3 separate regions of the Homo sapiens genome follow, and regions 1 and 3 are each reported to be linked to region 2. The links are microRNA targets in miRTarBase. Many come from high-throughput screens and were not tested one by one. Region 2 holds a microRNA gene; each other region holds the end of a gene's coding sequence.
Evidence for each region. The annotated mature microRNA hsa-miR-3138 reads UGUGGACAGUGAGGUAGAGGGAGU and lies in region 2 at 950-973, opposite strand. An mRNA with a match to its seed (bases 2 to 7 or 8) in the 3' UTR can be bound and repressed. Matches are read on the target gene's strand: a 7mer-m8 pairs with bases 2 to 8, a 7mer-A1 pairs with bases 2 to 7 and ends in A, and an 8mer does both.

Region 1: miRTarBase lists LUZP1 as a target of hsa-miR-3138. Seed matches in the 3' UTR shown: 7mer-m8 at 405-411 and 8mer at 2,226-2,233.
Region 3: miRTarBase lists TRMT6 as a target of hsa-miR-3138. Seed matches in the 3' UTR shown: 7mer-m8 at 720-726.

Annotation. Positions count from the first base shown.
Region 1 is chr1:23,086,052-23,089,051 of GRCh38, reverse strand. It overlaps LUZP1 (leucine zipper protein 1), which reads left to right. Exons shown (of 4, transcript NM_001395462.2): 4 at 1-3,000. The coding sequence ends at 157. Among named protein-coding and RNA genes, the nearest start is that of MIR3115, 43 kb to the right of the region's middle.
Region 2 is chr4:10,077,673-10,080,819 of GRCh38, forward strand. MIR3138 (microRNA 3138) reads right to left here and starts at 1,020; the gene lies at 939-1,020. WDR1 (WD repeat domain 1) reads right to left here. Exons shown (of 15, transcript NM_017491.5): 12 at 1,219-1,329; 13 at 81-254.
Region 3 is chr20:5,935,788-5,938,787 of GRCh38, reverse strand. It overlaps TRMT6 (tRNA methyltransferase 6 non-catalytic subunit), which reads left to right. Exons shown (of 11, transcript NM_015939.5): 11 at 62-1,560. The coding sequence ends at 253. Among named protein-coding and RNA genes, the nearest start is that of TRMT6, 13 kb to the left of the region's middle.

The sequences.
Region 1 (3,000 bases), not on the chromosome of region 2:
GGAAGAAGGGGAAGACTGTACACTCAGTGTCTACAGGCAACTGCACAACTCCCTGGATCCGTCTGAACTGCCTGGGAAGCAGGGGCTGCCAGAGTCTGGGCGAGTACGGGCCGAGGAACGATTACGGCCAACCAGGCCCTGTGCTGAGGAGAACTGAGCCCGCTGGGTGTCTGTTGTCTGCCCTCTGCTCCTGCTTCTCAGCTCTTCCACCGTCCTGCCCCACGAAGGATCCAAGGCCAGTTAACCAGGCAAGACACAAGCCTTGGCTGGAAAACTGTGGTAGAGCCGGGCTGTGGCTCAGGTAATTTTTGCCATTTGGCCAGAGGGAATCAGAGACTACAAGCTGGACAGTCACCCAGGCCCAACCTTCCCCAATGCACGAGTCCTCTCTCTCTCCTTGTCCCTGTCCACCAAGTAGTTGGACCATTCTGGCCCCCAAACAAGGGAAGATAAAGTCCCCAGCACACAGCAGGAGTCAAAAATTCTTCTCGGCTCCTTGGTGGGTTGTTTCTGGATCCTAGGGCAGCCTCTGTCTGTGTGGTTAATGTTCTGGTTTCTCAGTCTCCTCACTATATCCACTTCACTCCTCATTTGCCCAATGGGCTCAAGTACCCCATAAGATTTACCAGCCATCAGCTCTATCTAGGGGGCTTTCATTTCTTTCCCCTTGGAGTTCTTTTCTTCAGACTTAAAGCAGAAAGGGGTCTGTGCTGCCTCTAAAGGATTATGAGACTACCCTTTAGGTTGAAGTTTGACCTGGCTCCTGGCTTACCAGTCTCCTGGAAGCAGAGCATGCAGATACTCATGCGGATACCCATTGGAATGACATCATCCCTCCCCAACCCCAGCTCTCTCTGCTCACCTTCCAAAGGCACCTGGAGGTGCAAGCCTCATGCATCTCCTTTCCTGAGCACCAGTAATGCTGCTGGCATCGCCTGCTTTCTCTCCAGTGGCTGGAGACTTCAAGCTGACTTCATTGTTTCCACCTTGGGAAAATCCCTAGGCTAAGCTGGGCCTGACCCAGCATCCTCTGCCTTCTAGGAAGTGCCCAGCAAGAGGGAAAGCAGACCCCTTTAGTCACTCCACAAGCAATAGCTCCATGAGAGGCATGGACTGTGAGACTACTCCCTCCTGTTCCTCCTTCTCCATCCCCCATGGAGGAGGCATCGCACTTTACCAAGCTGATGCATTCCTACAGAAGTGGGCCCCGGATTTCTGCAAGTCGACTATCATGATGACTTCGCTGGAGGAAAGGTGATACGTACATACGCATTGAGGGCCTCAGCTTTATATAGTTCAAAATGCAGCAAACTTTTCAGAAAGCCACGTAAATAAATTGGTTAGGTTCCTTATACCAGTCACATGGGGAAGTTGAAAAGAATTGTATATTCTTGGCAGTGCTTTTTCTTTAGCATTCTGTCAATTCAAAGAAGGGATCCTCTTTCAAAGGCTACCTTTATGAAGTAGACACTATTGCCCTCAGAATGAGAGAACATTAAACTACCAGTCTGGTAAGCTGGATTTTTTTCCCCATGGCTTTACTTCCTTGCTGTGTGACCTTGGGTGAGTCATTGTCTTCTTGGAGCCTCAGTTTCCCTGTCTGTAAAATGAGTTCTTTGAAATGGATGATCTCTAAGGGCACCAAATCTGGTATTCTAAGGTTCTCCTGTTTTCACCATCTATAATAGTATGGGATGATTTTTGCTTGTGGAAGGTATCATCCGTGTGGGTTCTTCCCTCCTGCCCTCAATTGTTTTTCTGGGCCTTGTTTTTTAGTTTCTGTATGTTTTAATCTCATGGGGATGAGCTCAGAGAAGCTCCGTGGGCCTGTTTCCCAATCTGCAAAGTGTGAAGGGATTAGATGGGATGGTCTCTGAGGCTCTTTGTGGCATCAGCCTTGCCCAGTGCCACACAGTATCTCCTGGCGTTCTAGGAGTCTAGGTATTATGGAAAGTACCCAAGTCTGTGTATCTCCTGTTCCTGTGCATCTCCTATGAATTTCCTGGCAAGAGGAAGACTCAAGACTTCCTCCAGAGGAATTTGTCTTCTCTGCCTTCACTCAGCATGGGAACCAGTGTTCATCCTGACCTTGTCTGTATCAGATTTGGCAGTGAGGAGGCTTGGGGAGCACCTACCTTACTTTCAGGGACAGGAATCTATTGCTCATACTTCTGCTTCCCAGAGTTTTGCCAATCTAAAGGCATTGTCATGTGGCCTGCCTTTCCTGTCCACATCCCCACCTCTGATGCTCAAGATGCTATTTCCAAGATCTCTTACTGCTGCTTCTCCTGGCTTACTGGCCAGAAACTAGCTCACTCAAGGCTGCCATCCTTCACTTGCAGCCTCCCTGCCATTCTCCTTCACTGGTTGGCAACCTTGAGAGTTCAAAGAAAATCAACCTCTGTGGTGGTCAACTAAAGGTATTAGGAAACTAAGTCTGTGGCTCTTCTCTGCTGATGGAAACAGAAGGGCGCCAAGCCATGCCTAAAAAGATCTCGCCAATAATTCTTGTCTTTGAGTGTTGGAGCCCTGGATTCTGGTGCTATAGCTCCTGGTGCCAAAGTCTGGATCTTTCCACATTTCAGCAGCACCAACATCTGCTGCTACTCAAAATGTCCTGTTGAAGAGGGACAGCTGTGATGCCCTTTTGCTGGGGCTGCCATCTTGAAATCTGAGTGCAATAGGATTTGCTTGTAACAGTTATTTCAGGATATTTTGTTTCTTTAATCTGCACACTTTCTAGATAGATTTTATTTTTAAGTGTCCTCAGCATTGCAGAAAATAACATTGTAATAGCAAGTAAAGGCTGGAGGCTGTTTCTCTGGGCTTCAAATGGCTGGCAAGGCTGGCTCTCAAATCCCAAAGTTGGGAGGCATGTTTCTGAAAAGCAACTGAGGTGTGACTGTTTGGACCCAGGCCTCATCATCAGGGGTCCTGGAGGAAGCCTCCAAGTAGAGGGGAGACCTGGTAGTTGAATAGTTGTTTAATCAAGCCAAATAG
Region 2 (3,147 bases):
GTCACCAAGTCACAGATAACCTCCCACTGCCACCTGCACCGCCCAGCACGGGGACAGAGGAGGAGCCCGCCGCCACTCACCGAGTAGCCGTCAGCAACGCTGAACACTGTGACCACCTTGCTGGCGTCGCACACCGCGAGGAAGGCGCCGTCGTGGGAGTAGGCCACGTCGGTCACGGGGCCCTTGGCCTCTAGGAGCTTGCCCTCATCCTTCAGCGTGGTGCCCAGGATGGAATACAGGCGGACGTTGCCGTCCTACGGCAGGGACAGAGAGGAAGTGAGCCACCCCTGAACACACACACCACACCCATCCTTTGTGAAGGGGGGGTCGAGGGCTTAAGAAACTGTGCCGTTCCCACTGACTGCTGCTCTGCTGGGCCCATGCCAGGAGCTGGGCATGGCTCTTCCCGTGGATGGGCCTGAAACCTACGCAGCTCTATGAAAACAGCTGTTGGTACCTCGGGGCACCGCTGGTCTCATGAGGCCCTCAAGCTGGCTGGTGGAGGAAGCCACTCCATGCCCTGGTCACATCCGGCACCTGAAGGACCTGGCAGCACATAGACCCACCCAGCCCCTAGCATGGAGGGCACTGCCACGCCTGCTGCAGGACTGGGTTATCAGAGGGCTGCCCTCCTGGGCTGGAGAGGGGAAATGAGCTCTTCTACAGAGCACTCAGGACTTGGCCAGGCACACTGTGACCAGACCACACACACAAATTCAAGGGCATGAGAATTATGCCGAGGCAGAACTCAAGGGAAACTGTAAAATGTCTGGTTAGTACCGCACCTTGAAGATGCTGGGAAACTTCTGTCACTCTTCCTTCAACCTGTGAGCCGAGCCCAGCCCCAGGGGATGCCATTCCTTGATTTCCTGACCTGCTACCCTCTTGCGCTCCCCTCCTGCCGCCACTCATGGGGCTGGCTCTGAGGCACAGCTGTGCCCTCCTCGGCACTCCCTCTACCTCACTGTCCACAGTCTTGTGGGCACCCGGGCAGTGAGGTGGGGGAAGTGCCGAGGAGGGGAGGGGAAGGCTCCAGCCCTGGGTGGCAGGAGATGGCGTGGCTGGGCCCCAGAGCAGGTCCCACGCCCCGACTGCCCCCATCCTTCCCCTGACCCCTCGCCTTCCCTGAGACAGCCCCGGTACTCACACAGCTCACACTGTCCCCAAATCACCCAGATACCAAGGACAGAGAGCACGGGGGAGAGGAAAGCGACTTACCACACCCCCAATTGCCACCGTGTCCCCGCCGGGGTGCACTGCCACAACTTCGGGCTCGTAGCCGGGGTTGTCGATGCTGAAGCACTTCCTCTGATCCTTCAGCAGGACAATCTGTGGCACACACAGGCAGCTGGTCAGGCGGTCCAGCCCTTCGGGACAAAACCCTCAGTGGTAGGAGGGGCGCGTCCCTGTCGGGGCTCACTGGAGCTGGGTTTGGCTCCATACCCAACCTCTTTGCAGGGCCACCTGGGGCTCTGAGCCACACCACCTGGACTCATGTCCCGTTTGACAGTTGCTCTAGCCAGTCAGGTGGGGCAGGAAACACAACTAACTGTGACCATTACTGTCATCACTACATTACTTCCAAGGCAGTCACCACAGCACCACCTCTTGGAAAGTCACTTGGCCTCGATGGGAATCAACGTTCAGGGTAAGAAAGGTACTAACAACAGTAAACAAAAACAGCGACAGCCCCTAGGCACGTGCCAGCGCTCTGCTGTGAGTGTTCCAGCCCCACAAGGCAGGGATCGGGTTCCCCGTTTCAGAGAAGAAAATGGGGTACGGTGCTTATGCTGCACGCCCAAGGCTCCAGTTCCCACAGGCTGAGCCGGGACTCGCCCAGAATCCAAGCCTCGGCACCCGCACTGGGCCTTTGCCTCTGGTACATGCAGCAGAGGCTCTGCAGCGGGGGCCTTCCTTCCATCTCCCTTCCTTGTCAATTCTTCCGGTTCTAACTTACTCAACTGCTCCCAGACAGTGGCCTTCATCTCTGAGTTTTGCCTTTATCCCAGTGTGCCCCTACCCAAGCCACCAGCTGTCATGAGGGAAGGCAGCCTCTGCCCCTACCGTCTGGGCTTCTGTTTCTGCGTGGATTGTGGGTGGATCGCGATGAATGGTAGCAGCACCCTGACTAAAACCTACTACTGAAGAGGCACCTCTGTCATCTGCCCGGCTCTGGAGGTGGCCTTACCTACTCACAGGTGAAGAATGAGGGCCTAAGCATTTGCCTGAAGCTTCGTCCGACATGAGACTTGAACCTGGTTGTTTCCTGATCTAAAATCCCAGGCCCCTCCTAGCACCCTCCTAACTCTTTGACTGGTGACAGGGAGCTCTGCAGAAAATTCTGACCCAGAGCAGGGGTTCCAGATGCCCTGGGAGGATCAGGTAACAGCAGATCACAGAGAAATGCCACATGAGGAGGTGCAGAGACCTGGAGCCTGTCCCCTGCACACCACAACCCTACCGGGGTCCTTTCTAACCTCCTGGGCAGCAGGCGCCAGCTGGGCCAGTCTGAACATCCTCTCAGCCTCAGGGGAAAGGGTGGCCTATGATGACCACAACTTTACAGATGAGGAAACCTGGGTCTGGAGACACAGGGCACGCTGCCCTAGGCCTCATCCCCTCACCCACAAAGCCCCATGTGCAGACCCCTTGGCTGGGAAGAGCCCTGCTGTGCAGAGATAGGCCACCTGCCAGCCTTCTAGAACTCCGCTTTGTAGCGTTTCCCCCAGGCCCCGAGGCGCTCCATGTGTGGATTCCCTTTGCACCTCCCCACCCCCACTGGCTGTCCAGGCTGTTTGCAATAATTACTTGGCAGGGATTTCTTATTATCTAGGACACAGAGAAATCCACTGTCCCTAACGCAATTAAGTTCACAAGGCAAAGGAGGGCCAGAGGGTGCTGAAAGCAGCTTTCTTTAGCAGGGCTCGCCACTCGTGCCAACAGGTGCCCCTTGACTTCCCCGGTCTACATGCCAGCAAGCCTAGGCCCGCCAACAGATAATATCTTCTGCAGGGCAGAATTCTGTATAAAGTGGGTCAGGCTTGGGTCTCAGGTGGCTTTGGTCCAGATATTCCAAAGGTGTGCAGGTGGCCCCACTGTCTGGGGTTAGAAGCCAGGCCGGGAAGTCAGGTGCCACCCTTCTGCATG
Region 3 (3,000 bases), not on the chromosome of region 2:
TGTTGTTAGCATGGACTTTATTGTCTTAGGAAAGCATGAATGTCTTTTCTGTCTTGATTAGGTTTTGCCAGATCGAAGTCATCCTAAACTGCTGATGAGTGGAGGTGGGGGTTATCTTCTCTCCGGCTTCACCGTTGCCATGGACAACCTTAAAGCAGACACCAGCCTCAAATCTAATGCAAGCACTTTAGAATCACACGAGACTGAGGAGCCTGCAGCTAAAAAACGAAAATGCCCAGAGTCTGACTCTTAACCCTTTTGAGAATTGCTCTGAATTTTGTTCTCAGGCATTATACAGTTAGTAATTAAACTTTAAATGCCATTACTACTTGTTTTTTCATATCCCAAGAATAAGAACATGTCTATGTACCCGTTTCTAGGAAGGAGGAGTATATGCCTTTTGTCTATTTCTGACACAGATGCATTTGGTCTGTCAAAACTGCAACCATGGGGTATGTAGTATGACCAACTGCATTTAACAAAACTCCTCTAAGTACTTCTAAATATTCTGTGCAAATATCTTGAGAACTTCAACATCCTAAAAATGTGTTTCTACAAGACTTTATATTTTAAGCTAAGTGGAATAATACAACGTAACTAAAACATGGCGGGTACCGAAAGGAGGGCAATTCATGGAAGAAATTTCCTCTGTTCATTCCGTTCTCTTCAACCTAAGCAATATGGATGTGTGAGTGTGTGATTTATTATGGTACCAAAAATGTCCACCTTCTTTCCTGCAGCGGAATAAGCTTTTTTGAAATGCTGAGGTTTTATTTTAATAGTTGACAACCTGGGAAAGTTCTGAGTATTTATTTTACTGCTCTTTTTTGTGCATAGAAAGGTTTAGTAGGGTACTTTTTTGCATTAATTTGCCAATACTCTTATTCTTTGTTCTAAATAAAGTGACTAGAATTTTTGTGTACTATTCAATTAAAGGAAACAAATGTCTTTTCCCCCTCTATGGTCTTATGGATACACATTTGCACACACACACATATGTATATAGATGTTGGTATATATACACACATATATTTATATATACACAGATATATACATACACATGCAAGTGGAGACATAGATTGTACCACCTGTATGAATATGTATGTACACATGGGGACAGAAAGAGTGTGCAGTCTATTTGAACTGTATCAAAGTCTTGTGCAGGACTTAGACCAATTCTCATTGTATTAGTGTCATTCCTTGTCAAATGTCCCTAAAGTGCCTTTCTTGATTATTAATGCTGAAGAACTCTGTCATGATTAGATGGTTACCCTTTCTAAGCTCTGAAAAACTCTAATCATTTGATCATGTGCTGTAGCAAAGAAAGTGTTTAGAATCAGCCAAGGCTCTTGTTCATTTGAGAGATTGAGTCTTGCTCACTGGAACATGGTCATCGTTTGCGTTGCTCCTGTCATAGAATAGGCCTGTATCATACAGCAAGGAACATCTCAGAAAAAAAATTTTTTTTCCAAATAGCATGTGCTATGCCAATGTGATTACTAAGTACAATTTTGAGTCCTTTATCCTAATTGCTATTAAAGAATAAAAATGTCGGCCGGGCACAGTGGCTCATGCCTGTAATCCCAACACTTTGGGAGGCCCAGGCAGGCGGATCACCTGAGGTCAGGGGTTCAAGATCAGCCTGACAAACATGTTGAAACCCCATCTCTACTAAAAATTAGAAAATTAGCCATGCGTGGTGGCTAACGCCTGTAATCCCAGCTACTTGGGAGGCTGAGGCAGGAGAACCGCTTGAACCCGGGAGGCAGAGGTTGCAGTGAGCCGACATCACGCCATTGCACTCCAGCCTGGGCGACGAGTGAAACTGTCTCAAAAAATAAATAAAAATGAAAATGTTTCCTACTGTGATTCTTCTAACAGTGATGCAGTCAGTGATGTCCTGTGGGCTTTCGGCCGATTGTGACGTGGTCTGTCTATTGTAGAGGACATGCCTGGATTGGCACCTCACGGAGTGTGTTGCAAGCTGGTGTCACACACACATGTAGCTAATCAAGTTTGGACAAGGAGAACAGAAAACTGCATAGATTAGAATCAGTAGTGGCTGGTCTCCTGGTTACTGGTTTGCAAGTTGCATTCCGTTCCCTAAATCTTTTCTCTTGAGTTTCTTGAGCAAGGGGTCTGGGGTCTGAGCTACCAAGGCCCTGCATGCTCATGTTACCTTGTGAACTCATCTTACCAATGCCAACAGCATAAGTTAATCTGTATTTTTTTTTTTTCTCATTCATATAGTTTACTTAATCTGCGTACAGATGATTGAATTCTGTGGTTTGCAAACTTAGCATTGGAAAACTTAGATTCCCCTGGAGGGCTTGGTAAGCAGAGGCCACTGGGCCCTCCACCCCACAGAATAAGATTTCAGTACTTCTGGAGTGGTACAGAGCATTTGCATTTCAAGTAGTTTCCAGGTGATATTGGTGCTGTTGGTCCAGGAACCGCCCACTGGGAACCACGACTGTGTGCATGCACATCATGGGTACAGCTAAATACAGGATGTTTTTGTCTTGTGTTTAAAATGGACATTCACCTTTGGAGCAGATGAACGGATAATTTTATGATTTTTGGACATCCAGCCACCAGAGGAGTTATGTAGAATAGCACTTTAATGAATGGCAATCAAGAAGTCAAAGACAAAAATCATTCTGTAACATCCATCCTGTTCCTCCACTGGACTAGGGTACTTGGCAATATAGCATGGCACCCATTACAGGGCATTTTTTAGCTTAAAGGTACACTCAAATTGTATGAAGCAAATACTGAGCAATCATTCATGCATTGGTTGTATATTGAAAAGCCAAAAATAGCCTTTTCTCAATACATAGTGAAGCTTTGGGAAAAAAAAATGGAGTGTTTGCATGTTGTTTTAAAGTGTTGGTTGTAAGTATTGCAAGAACAGTACTAAATACTAAAACGCATGTCCTAAAAATCCATGATCAGGATTCACTTTATCCTGATTTTGTAATGCCTTTAAGTGCAGTGCTA